Regions from separate parts of the Homo sapiens genome. Here region 1 is linked to region 2. Evidence: fine-mapped expression QTL. A gene starts in region 2. The other region holds a variant in brackets. All regions are shown on one strand. Distances are from middle to middle. Region 1 has its middle 32 kb from the start of TSPAN17. Region 2 holds the start of TSPAN17 (tetraspanin 17).

Region 1 (5,352 bases), 32 kb before region 2:
TGGCCTTTGAGGGAAGAAGGGGGAAAAAATCAAATTATCGGACAGGGTCCTTTTAAGAAGCTGCGGCTTTAATTTATTTTCTTATATTTTGTCAATAGCTGTTGTTTTTTTCTTAAACAAGTGCTGCACTTTATAAATGGATTTGCTTGGGCAAAACAAACACAGTCATTTCATACTTTTCCTTCCCTCTAAAACTTACTTAAAATACGGTGAGTGGCTAAGATGGACCCCCAGGGCCTGACCACCACTCAGAAAGGTGACCCGTGGCTTTAGAAAGACACCCGGCCCTGGGAGGCGGGACAGGAAGAGGGATGGATGCAGCAGCAGACCCGTGGCAGATAATCACTTCCCCGCCATGCAGCTTTTGGGGGCTCCAAAATCTCCTGGGAGAACTTTTTTGGTTTTTTTTGAGACGGAGTTTGTCTCTGTCGCCAGGCTGGAGTGCAGTGGCACGACCTCGGCTCACTGCAAGCTCCGCCTCCCGGGTTCAAGCGATTCTCCTGCCTCAGCCTCCCTAGCAGCTGGGATTACAGGCGCGCGCCACCCTGTCCGGCTAATTTTTGTATTTTTAGTAGAGACTGGGTTTCACCATGTTGGCCAGGCTGGTCTCCATCTCCTGACCTCGTGATCCGCCCGCCTCCGCCTCCCAAAGTGCTGGGATTACAGGCGTGAGCCACCGCGCCCAACCGGCAACATTTTTAAAGCACAGATTGCCCCACCCACCGGTGAAGAGTCTGATTTCCTGGGCCTGGAGGGTGGCCCCAGACTTGGGGTGTTTAAAGCTCAGGTGACTGGATAGTAAAGCAGCCAGGAAGCTCAAATTCCAGCCCCTCAGCCTGGCCTTCCTGCCACCCCTGGGCAGCCACGCTGCCCTGGTCCCCACTCCACCCCAAGTGCCCTGGACTCCTTCAGGGGCCCCCAGCTTCTGCACCTCTGCTTCCTTGGCCTGCAATGTGGACTCACCTTTTCAAGTGGTTGAGTCTCATCCACTTGATTATAATTCTGGGTAGTCATCACCATCCATTCATTCATTCATCACCATCATCATTCATTCAGCTGTTCATTGAAAATTTATTTATTCAACACTTTTATATGCCAGCCTTTATGTACCAGAGTAATATACAAAGATAAAAACAAAAAGAGAGAGTCCTTGGCCTCCAGAAGCCCGTGGAACAGCTGGGCCACAGTCTCCCTTGGCCTCTGCTGTGCCCCACGCAGAGCAGGGGTCTCAAGCCCCAATGTCCCCTGGGGTCTGGCGAGGCGCTGGGTGACTGAAGAGGGCAGCCGGGCCTTCTAAACGGGGCTGCCCCCCAGGTTTGCCTTGTGGAAGGCCACCCGGTGTCGACTGCCCGTTTTTCAGGAGAAGCCAGCAGTCCAAGTATTTCCATGAACCCTGGCTTTTTAATGTGACTGGTTTTCTTTAAATCCACCCTCCCTGGGGGCCACACGGAGCTTTTCTGCCTGGACCCTCTGCTGCCGGGTCCCCAGTCTCCAATCCTCGCGGATCCCAAAGGCGGAGCTCAGGCCCCGTGGCGCAGGAGCCATCCGGGTGGGCGAGGCCCTGACCGGATGCCTTCCCCCGGGACCCGGCTCGCTCCCCTCGCCCTGCAGCTCGGCTGAGACGCCTCCCTGAGACACCGCCCCGCGCCCGGGAGCCGGCCCAGGCGGGTGGGTGCCTTTCTCCGACAGCGGCGGCTCCCGGGAGGCGCACTCCACGCCGCTGGTTCTGCGGCCTCCAGTAATAAATTGCAGCGGAGGCGAGAGTTGAGCTGCAGGGCGGGAGGTGCGGGTTGAGGCTGGAGGCTGCGACTCGAACCCCGACAGGGGACAGCGAAGTGAAGCGGGGCGGATGGACGGACAGGCTGCGGGGTACGGGGTGCGGGGCGGGCAGGGAGCTGGACCCCAGTCCCATCCTCTGAGCTGCGGGGAGGCGCTAAGGCCGGAGCAGAGCGGCACTGCAGCCTGCAGGGGTCTAAACAGGGATCCCCTAGGTCCTCCACGGATTAAACAAGATGAAGCCTGAGCCTGGCCTCTCTCTTCCTCTGCACACCCAGTCACGTCCCCAGACCCTTAGCAGGACGAGCCTTGCTCACTCACGCTTGGCGTCCGAGATGCCTCGGATATGTCCTCCTCCCGGTGTTGACAGCCTCCTGCCTGGTAGCTGGCAGAGCCCCAGGGTGACAGGGAGAGGAGCTAGCCTGGCCCTGTAAGGAGTCTGGGGATCCCAGGCAGGGGGATGTTCGGAGGGGAGCAGTGGGGCCCACGGAGACACCCACTCATCAGGTCACCAGCCACCAAGACAGCCCCTCCTAACTCCTGTGGGAGGGGCCTGGACAGAATGGATGGGGGTAACTTAGAGTCCCCATGTGCCCCCACTGAGGCAGAATGTATGTCTTGAAGCAGA[G/A]GGGTCACCAGATTGGTCCTGGGACGTGACGGGGGACCCTGGTGGTCTAAGAGGGGCATGCGGCAGGGATGGATCCTGTACCAGGCAGGACGGAGGACTATGTGGAGCCAGTGTGGAAGGCAGAGACCCCTGGGTTGTGGGTGCAGCGTTGAGGTCACACAGATGTCTGGGGAGTTTGGCCCCACTCGAGGCCTTGACCCTTCCTGGGTCCCTCCTCCACCTGAGTGCAACCACAAATGGACCAAGAACACCCCAAAATGGGCCAAATTTATCCTGAATTTACTCTAATGGGGACTCAAGACAGAAATTAAGTTTTGTTTTAGAAAACCTTAGCAGGGATTTTGCACCCCCAAGATGGGTTTGTGACCTTGGAGACTCTGCCCCACACCAGGCACAGAGTTCTCAGTAGCATTCGGTGTCCAGGCAGGGACTGCTGAGCCTCTGCTCTGTGCTGGGCCCTGGCTTGGGAAGGAGCGCAACAAGGTCCCTGCTCTTGGCGGCTGATATCAGAGGAGGAGATGGTCAGTTAAAGTAGCTCAGGAGCTCATCTCGGATGGTGGTGAGTGCTGGGAAGAAACGCAGACATAGGGAAGGCCCTGGGACAGGACTGGGGACTGCTTTAAAGGGAGCCAAGTTGGCCTCTCTGAGTAGGGCCACTGGGCTGAGCCTCAGATGAGAGGAGCTGAAGGTGAAGGTCAGAGGAGAAGGCACCCCAGGGAAGTGAGCAGCAGGTGCAAAGGGCCTGGCAGGGGCCTGGGCCCAGCTTGGGGAGATCAGCAAGGAGGGGCCCACGGGCGCTCACTGCTCAGCTCAGCCATCTTGGCAGACAGCCAGCTTCCCTCGGCCAACAGTTCCAACAAGGGTGCAAGAATATAGCCCCATTGGCCAGGCCTGAAGCCAGAGGCCAGGGTCAGCACTGCCTAAACTACTGGGAGATGAAGGTTTCCCAAGTGAGAACCAGGAAGGAGAAAGATGTGGGCCAGGCAGACATGTGGAGCCCACCTTGTTTGGGGTGAGGACCGGAGGCTCCGATTGCTTAGGGAATATGCCCAGGAACCGGAAGTGGATTCTGGCTCTTAAGTCTGCTGACCACCGCCCAGTGCCTCCTCTGAGCCTTCCTCTGTCCCAGCCTCCTCCAGGCCTCTCCCTCTCCTCTGGCCACCAGGTCACCCAGGCACCCGGGACTGCCTCTTTCCTTCCTAGTCATCACTACCTGCCCTCCCAGCTCTTGCCTGCTCCTGGCAACATCCTCACCAAAGGGGGACTTGGGGAGCAGGAAGATAGATGGCTGTGTTCACCACTCACCCAGCCCTCTCTGTTCCCCTGACACCTACCCCCAGGAGGGAGAGCGAGGAGGAAATGCTCAGGTACACACCAGTGCCCATCACATGACCAGGGACGGGGAGGAAGAGCCACCCCACCAAAGGCTGCATTCACTGTCCCTCATTCAGCCCTGGATTGTGGGTGTGAATGTTCAGGCCACTCACGCAGGTGTGCCAAAACCACCACCTTACTTTCCTACTATATGCATGCTTCCTTTCCAACCTCCGTTTTCTACTGAGTAGCAGAAAAGTCTTGAGTTCAGTTCAGCTCTGTCAGCTTCAACTCAGAAGATTCAGGGCCCCCTCCCCCATCTCTTGGACCCCACAGATCCCAGCAAATATGGGTGACATCATAAACATCAGGGGAGGTGGCAGATGGGTCATCGGTCGATGTCATCCCTGCTGGCACCCCCAAGACATACACTGGGACATGTGGTTCTTGGCTGTCATCTCTGTTCCGAGTTGGCAGCCGATGAGCTGTCTGCGTCCCCATCTGGTCTCTGCTTGTAAGGGCCAAGCAAGTTTTGGCTGTGGCCTCCTCTTGTCACAACTGGGACTCCCTTCCAGGCCCTCCTTGAGAACTTGGCCGCTCCCTACAGGGCACTGGGGCTGGGGAGCTCGCTGGGCTGTCACAGGCCCTCTGTTGAGCCACCACCGCTCACTCCCTGTCTAGAGTCTCCTGGCCTTCTCAGGGCACAGGGCACCTGGGGACCTTGCCCCTCCCAGGAAATGAGGTTCAGCCCCACCAATCCCGAGATCAGAGCTGCAGCTGCCCCTGGGGGCTTATCCTTCCCCAGGCGTACCCCCACCCAGCCCAGGAGAGCCCTCTCCCTTAGTTCCTTATATTCTTCTGTCCTCCACAGCTAGACAATGTTTAACCTCATCTGTCCATGCTGAGGGGGAGACACATGCTGTGCAGAGAGCGTTCCAAATGTACTGCATGTGGTAGGACCTGGACTTTGGAAGCTCCACAGCTAAGGTTTCCCTTCTCTTGTTTCTCTGCTTCTCTGTGCAGCCTGCATCCCTCAAGGATAGGGCCTAGTTGTTGTGGTAGTGGGGAGTGTGACAGGAACAAAACGGCCCTCACTAGGGGTGACATCACAGTGCTACCCCCTGGAAAACTGGAAGTGGGGGCAGCCCTGGGGGGATGGGTACTACAGAACTGGGTGCCCCTCTCTGGGGCAGGTCCATGAAATCAGTGAGATGCCTGGTTGGGGACCCCCTGGCAGGGGCCAGGGAAAGCTGCCCTGTCACCCAGCAGCAAGTAGACATGGAAATCAGGACCTCTGACCCAGCAGTTGGTGAACAAGACCCCGGGGCTGAATTTGGGGTGGAGGAGCCGTGCGGGGCTGGGTCTGAGCCTCTGGAGTCCTCTGTTAGGTCCCTGCTGCTCTCCTGGGCGTTCAGGAAGGCTTTGTTAAGCCCCAGCAGTGACAAAGTGTGTTCAGGGACCCAAGAAAAAGGCTGTTCATATCAGAGCCAGGATGTATAAAGGGGTAGCGTTTGTCACAGGCCCCTCAGGGATGGGCGGTATCATCATCACACCCCAGGGGGGAGAGTGAAACTCAGAAAGCACTGGTATAGGTTTAATGCAAGCAGGAGTCCCTCGAAGGGCTCCCAGCTCAA
Region 2 (5,363 bases):
AGGGCACAGGCAGAGGCCCTGACACAAGACCACGTCTAGTTCAAGGAACAAACTGAAGGGCGGACAGCCCGGCCCCGCGGGGCCCTGGAGGCCGACAGTACTCTAGGAGCAGTAAGAAACCACGAGCAGGATGGCCGGGCGTGGTGGCTCACGCCTGTAATCCCAGCACTTTGGGAGGCCAAGGCAGGTGGATCACCTGAGGTCAGGAGTTCGAGACCAGCCTGACCAACATGAAGAAACCCCATCTCTAGTAAAAATACAAAATTAGCCAGGCGTGGTGGCACACACCTATAGTCCCAGCTACTTGGGAGGCTGAGGCAGGAGAATCGCTTGAACCTGGGAGACGGAGGTTGCAGTGAACCGAGATCGTGCCATTGCACTCCAGCCTGGGCAACAAGAGCAAAACTCTGTCTCAAAAAAAAAAAAGAAAAAAGAAAAAAGGAAACCACAAGCAGTTTCCAAACAGAACAACACCAGGGTCTGCCTGACATTAAACATGAAAACCTCTGTGCCTGTTCCACAAGCAGCCTCCCTTAGGCCACCTTAACCCAAATCTGAAATCCTCCCTCCAGCCCCCAAGTGACCCAGCCCAGTCAATTCAGCCTCTTGACTTTCCCAGCAACCTCCCTCACCTTTCCCACCTCACCATCCCAGCTTTGCCCCAGCCCTGCCCCCATTCCAAACCTCCAGGCCCTGCCCCTCATCCACCCTCCACACAGCAGCCAGGCAAGCGGTCTCCAGAACAGAAGCCAGATCAGACCCATCACTGGAAGCCCTCGCTTCTCCATGCCACCTTAACATAACACCCCACGCTCCGCCCCAGCAACAAACCCGGGTCTCTCACGCCTGCTCCCCCTCGGTATTTGAGGTTACTTCTGCTCACAGCTCTGCCTCACCTCCACCCTCTGCCCACTAAGCCGTCACCTTGGCTCTGTACTTTCTGGCTGTGTGACCCTAGGTAAGTGACTTAATTTCTCTGTGTCTATTCCTTCAGTTTCCCCATCTGTAAAATGCAGATAATAAGGCAGTTGTGAGAATACAACAAATTGAACTCATTGTATCTGCCTAACAGCCCTCACAGGCAGATTCTTTATCGTCGTCTCCCAGGCAGGCAAGCTGAGGCCCGGAGAGGAGAGATGACTTGCCCAAGGTGTCCCAGCCAGGCCTGCTACAGCCAGGCCTTCTGACTTCTTTGCCAGTGCTCCCACACACTGCCCACACCCTCAAGAGCCTAGCGCTGCAGTGCAAGGACACCCACCACACCAGTGAGCTCGGTGACACGTGGGTGGGGGGCAGTGCCACTGAGTCTTGCTGAACACAAGGGAAAAGGCCTGGCATCTTGACCCAAGGCCTCAGGAGCAGAGACTGCAGAGGGCCACGGCTTTGGAGAGATGGGAAAAATGACCTGGCAGGGCCCAGGGGGACAGATGCCACCCTGGGAGGGGCACTAGTAGCTCCCTTCCCCGGTAGGGGCAGACCCGCCCAGGAGCCTCAGCTTGTCAGCTGTGGAATGTTGAATTCTGTTCCCCAAGGCCAGCTCCCAGGCTCTCAACCGGGGAGATCCTCTCCCAGCCGCCAAGGACTCGCCATTGTCCCTCCCTGCCCCTCCTGGCAGGTCAGCCTCCTTGTGCGGGACTGGGGTGGGCAGAGGACTGTGACCCACCCCACTCTGCAGGAGCCTAAGGTGAGGCACCTGACCCAGGTACTACTGGAAGGGAAAGGAGGCCGGGGAAGGGGCCTGGCGGCTCCCTTCACGCCAGAATCTCCTTACCGGCTAAACCAGGGGTGGGGCTTGGCACGCATCCCACATCCCAGGGTAGGAAGGAGGGCTGGGCGAGAGGGGGCAACCTGCACCTAGCACGCCCCTGGGGTCTTCAAGGAAACACCTTCCCTTTCTCCACCAGGCCTCGGGATTATTTAGGGAGACTCCCTACCCCAACCCCGACCCCACGCTGTCGCTAGGACCCGCCCCCAGCAATCCGGGCCTCTGTAGCTACCTCGGGTGGTCCTGGAAGTGGGCGTGGGTGTGGCAGAAGTGGGGGGATGGTCCCGAGCTCCAAACTCTTGGGGCAGGGAGTGGTCTCCCCCAGCAAAAGACTGAATCTCCCTCTCCCACCACCCCCCAGCACAGGGCAAGGCGCAGACCCCGCGCTCACCCAGAAGACAATGTTGAAGCCAAACAGGAAGTATTTCCCGCAGCAGCCGACCTCAGGTTCCTGGAAATGCTGGTGCTTGCCGGGCATGGTGAGCGGCCACCCGCCGGCCCGGAAACCGGAGCCGGGAGCCAGGCCCAGCGCCCCGCGGGCCGCCCTGGGCTAGAGCCGCCCGGGGCCTAGCCGGGCGGCTGCGGCTTCATGGCCTCGGCCACACAGAGCGCCGGTCGGGCCCCGCCCGCCCCTCAGGGACCGCCCTCAGCATCCAGACCTCCTTGCCCGGAGCCCTGCTGTCCCCGCCTCTGGACCGGGCCCCGCCCCCACAGCCCTCAGTCCCTTTGGAGTCCCGCCTCCTGACCTGGCTCCGCCCCCATAGATCAACTCAGTCCCGCCTGAGCCCCGCCTCTGGACCTGGCTCCGCTTCCCGAGCTCCGCCCCCACAGCCTGATTCGGACCTCCTCGCAGCCCCGCCTTCGGCCAGGCCCCGCCCCCGCGCAGGCCGCCGCCGCGTTTCCCAGCGTCCTGCAGACCCGCCCGGGACGCCGGCTGATGGCGCCGGAGGCCGCCGGGGTGTAGAAGCCTTGCTTCCCCTGCTGGGTACCAGCGCCATCCCAATCCCCAGCCTGCTGTTGGAGCCCATCCCAGGGGAAGGTTAACTGCTGCTCTGGCAGGCGAATGGGGAAGCTGGTCCGGATTGAGTTTTTAACACGTGCAGGACGTTTTGTCATTGTGGAGTCGCATCAGGCTCACCTTCACCCAGCGGAAATCCAGCTCTACTTATCCTGACTCAAACTCAGGCCAAACGAGGGCCTGGGCCTTGGTGCCACGCCGGCTGCGCCCTGCCAGGGGCATATGCCCCCCGGAACCTGGCTCAAGCCCCCTTGGTGGCTGAGTTTCCCCAGCCACACCCCCTGTCCTCCATACTGGCCAGGGTCCCGGTCAGGCTCCTTGGTACCCAGTGATCTCACATGAGCCCCTGTAAGACAGGACAGAGGCAGATCAAAGTTTGGGGGAACCTGAATCTTACTCCAGTTTGAAGCCCTCTTAAAAATAATTCCAACTTTGTTCAGAAGTATTTATTTAAAACAGGAACAGAAAGATGCTTAAGCTTTTATTATCAAGTTTATCCACTTCCACCACTTCTACCAGAACCTTGGTGAGGCCTAGCCCAGCATCCCTCCACCTCCACTTCAGTCTGGCCCTGAGGCAGGCAAGGCCCAGACAGCCCTGGTCACAGCTGGGGAGAAGGGGAGCGGCCTTGCAAGGCTCTCTCAGTCCTCAGCAACCCACGTATCCCTCTGTACAAATGATGGCGTTCACCCTCCAGAATGTCTGTGCCCTTGAGCCCACCACCCATGGAAGAGTCTGTCTCTCAGGCCACCTCACCTCCTTCCTGGGTGGAAACAGTAAACGCTGGACTATGGGTTTCTCCGCCTACCATAGAGCCCTCCTTCCCCGCCATGACTCACCCCACCCTCAGGAGTTTTTTCCACCCTGCTGCTGTCCTGTGGCCCCAGGACAAGCTAGGTCCTCAGACTGCCACCACTACCCCCATCTAGCCCCTAAGGCTCAGGCCCCAACTCATGTTAAAGAGTGTTTGCATTCCTGTTCACTTGAGGACAGGTAAGAACTAGGCTGTCTGATCCCCAGTCCCGCCCCATCCCCCAAAGTAATGAGGCTCAGTGGCGGCTGTCCCATTACATAGGAGGGGTGCCAAGGCCCCCCTCACACCACAAACTTGTTCTTGGCTAGGGAGTTGCTCTTGGTGGCTGTGTCTGCATGGGCCTGGTACCCAATGATGGTCTTTGGGGAGAGGCCCAGGCGCTCTTTGTATACACGCCTGCAGGTGCGGGGGACACAGAGGAAAAGAGACACAGGTAGTCATCAGAGGGTCCTAGAGATAACTTAGGCCACCAGACTCCTACCCTCATTCTGGCCACAGCCACACCTGTTGTGTCTTACCCATGTGGAAACCCAAAATATGACCCCCTTAATGCAAAAGGAGAGCTGCACTGCCGTAAGAGAAAGTTAGAAATCTGAACGCCAGACCTTCCATACAGGTGGGCAAGGCAGAAGGGAGGGAGGCTATGGAGACTTTCAGAGGTCTCCCATGCAGGCCAAGCCCCCTCCACCCACCTTCCCTCTAGCAGAGACCCAAGTCCCCACCCTGTGCCAGAGACCCTCCTCACCCAACGTGCAGCACGCCCGCCTGGTTTTCCGCCTCCCTCGTCCACACAGCGATCTTGTCCCCCTTGGTGCGGATGTTGACGACGGCCCCACATACCTCTCTGCTGTGTTCCTCAAAGCTCTCCCCGATCAGACACAGCAGCTGGACCCGAAGTAGGGGGTTGTGAGATCACCGGCTGGGACATAGGGACTGGCCTGCCATCCTTGAGACCACTGCCACCATGAGACCCACACAGCCCGTCTCTTCCCCTGAGGACCCTCCTCCTCCAACTCACCGTCTCCAGCCACAGCCGGTCCAGCTCAATGTGGCGCTGCTGCTTGGCCAGGCTGACCAGCCAGCGGCCACCCCGTTTATTCCTGCTGTCCTCCCACATGGGCTGGATGCCATCCTGCAAGGCAGATGGCAAGTCAACTGCCTCCCTGTGTTCAAAGGGAAATGGGGACCCACCCACCATCCCGGCCTTATCCGCTCTCTGCTGAGGCCCTAAGTAGGCCAGATTCTCTTATCCTCCCTTCCCTCAGTGCAAGCAGGTTCCACCCCCAGCCACTCAGCTCCCCCCGACAGACAGCACTGGTCACCTTGTATAGCCTTGTATATGTGCATGTCTCTTTTACTGAGTTCCTTAAGACAAGCATTCAAATCGGGGTGGATTAAGGAAGCCTCAGGGGCAGACCCCAATGCAGGCAAGGGGGACATCCCAGGCTTGGCTGCATGGTTCCCAGGCAGGGCAGAAGTCACTGGGGAGATCTCTAAACACAATGTCAGCCCTCCAGGGATGGGTGTGGCATCAATGAGTGTCCTCAAGCAATTCTGATGCCCTTCCCTAGTTAAGGAGCCAGGTCAGAAATCTCTCCCTCTCCCTCTTCCCGCCTCTTAAGGTCCTCCAAGGTGCGGCTTGGGCCTGACCTACTCTGTCCGGGCTCCTGTAGAGCATTTCCTCCAGTCAGAAACCACAACTCTGCTGAGAGGTGGCCCGTAGCTCCCCACCCCCACCCCTCTGAGGGATTAACGCAGTGGAGTCC

The links. PIP is the estimated chance that this variant, and not a neighbour inherited with it, causes the effect.
Region 1: its variant is fine-mapped to the expression of TSPAN17 in nasal epithelium (TOPMed, PIP above 0.99).

What each region holds. Positions count from the first base shown.
Region 1 is chr5:176,676,668-176,682,019 of GRCh38, reverse strand. No RefSeq gene overlaps it. Among named protein-coding and RNA genes, the nearest start is that of TSPAN17, 32 kb to the right of the region's middle. RefSeq lists enhancers at 227-1,186, 1,187-2,147. The variant G/A (reference allele first, on the strand shown) is at 2,405.
Region 2 is chr5:176,644,496-176,649,858 of GRCh38, reverse strand. It overlaps TSPAN17 (tetraspanin 17), which reads right to left and starts at 2,375. Exons shown (of 9, transcript NM_130465.5): 1 at 2,157-2,375. The coding sequence starts at 2,243. EIF4E1B (eukaryotic translation initiation factor 4E family member 1B) reads right to left here. Exons shown (of 9, transcript NM_001099408.2): 7 at 4,616-4,729; 8 at 4,343-4,482; 9 at 3,215-3,993. The coding sequence ends at 3,879. RefSeq lists enhancers at 1-128, 246-1,115, 3,477-3,771, 4,042-4,552, 5,134-5,363 and a silencer at 2,144-2,803.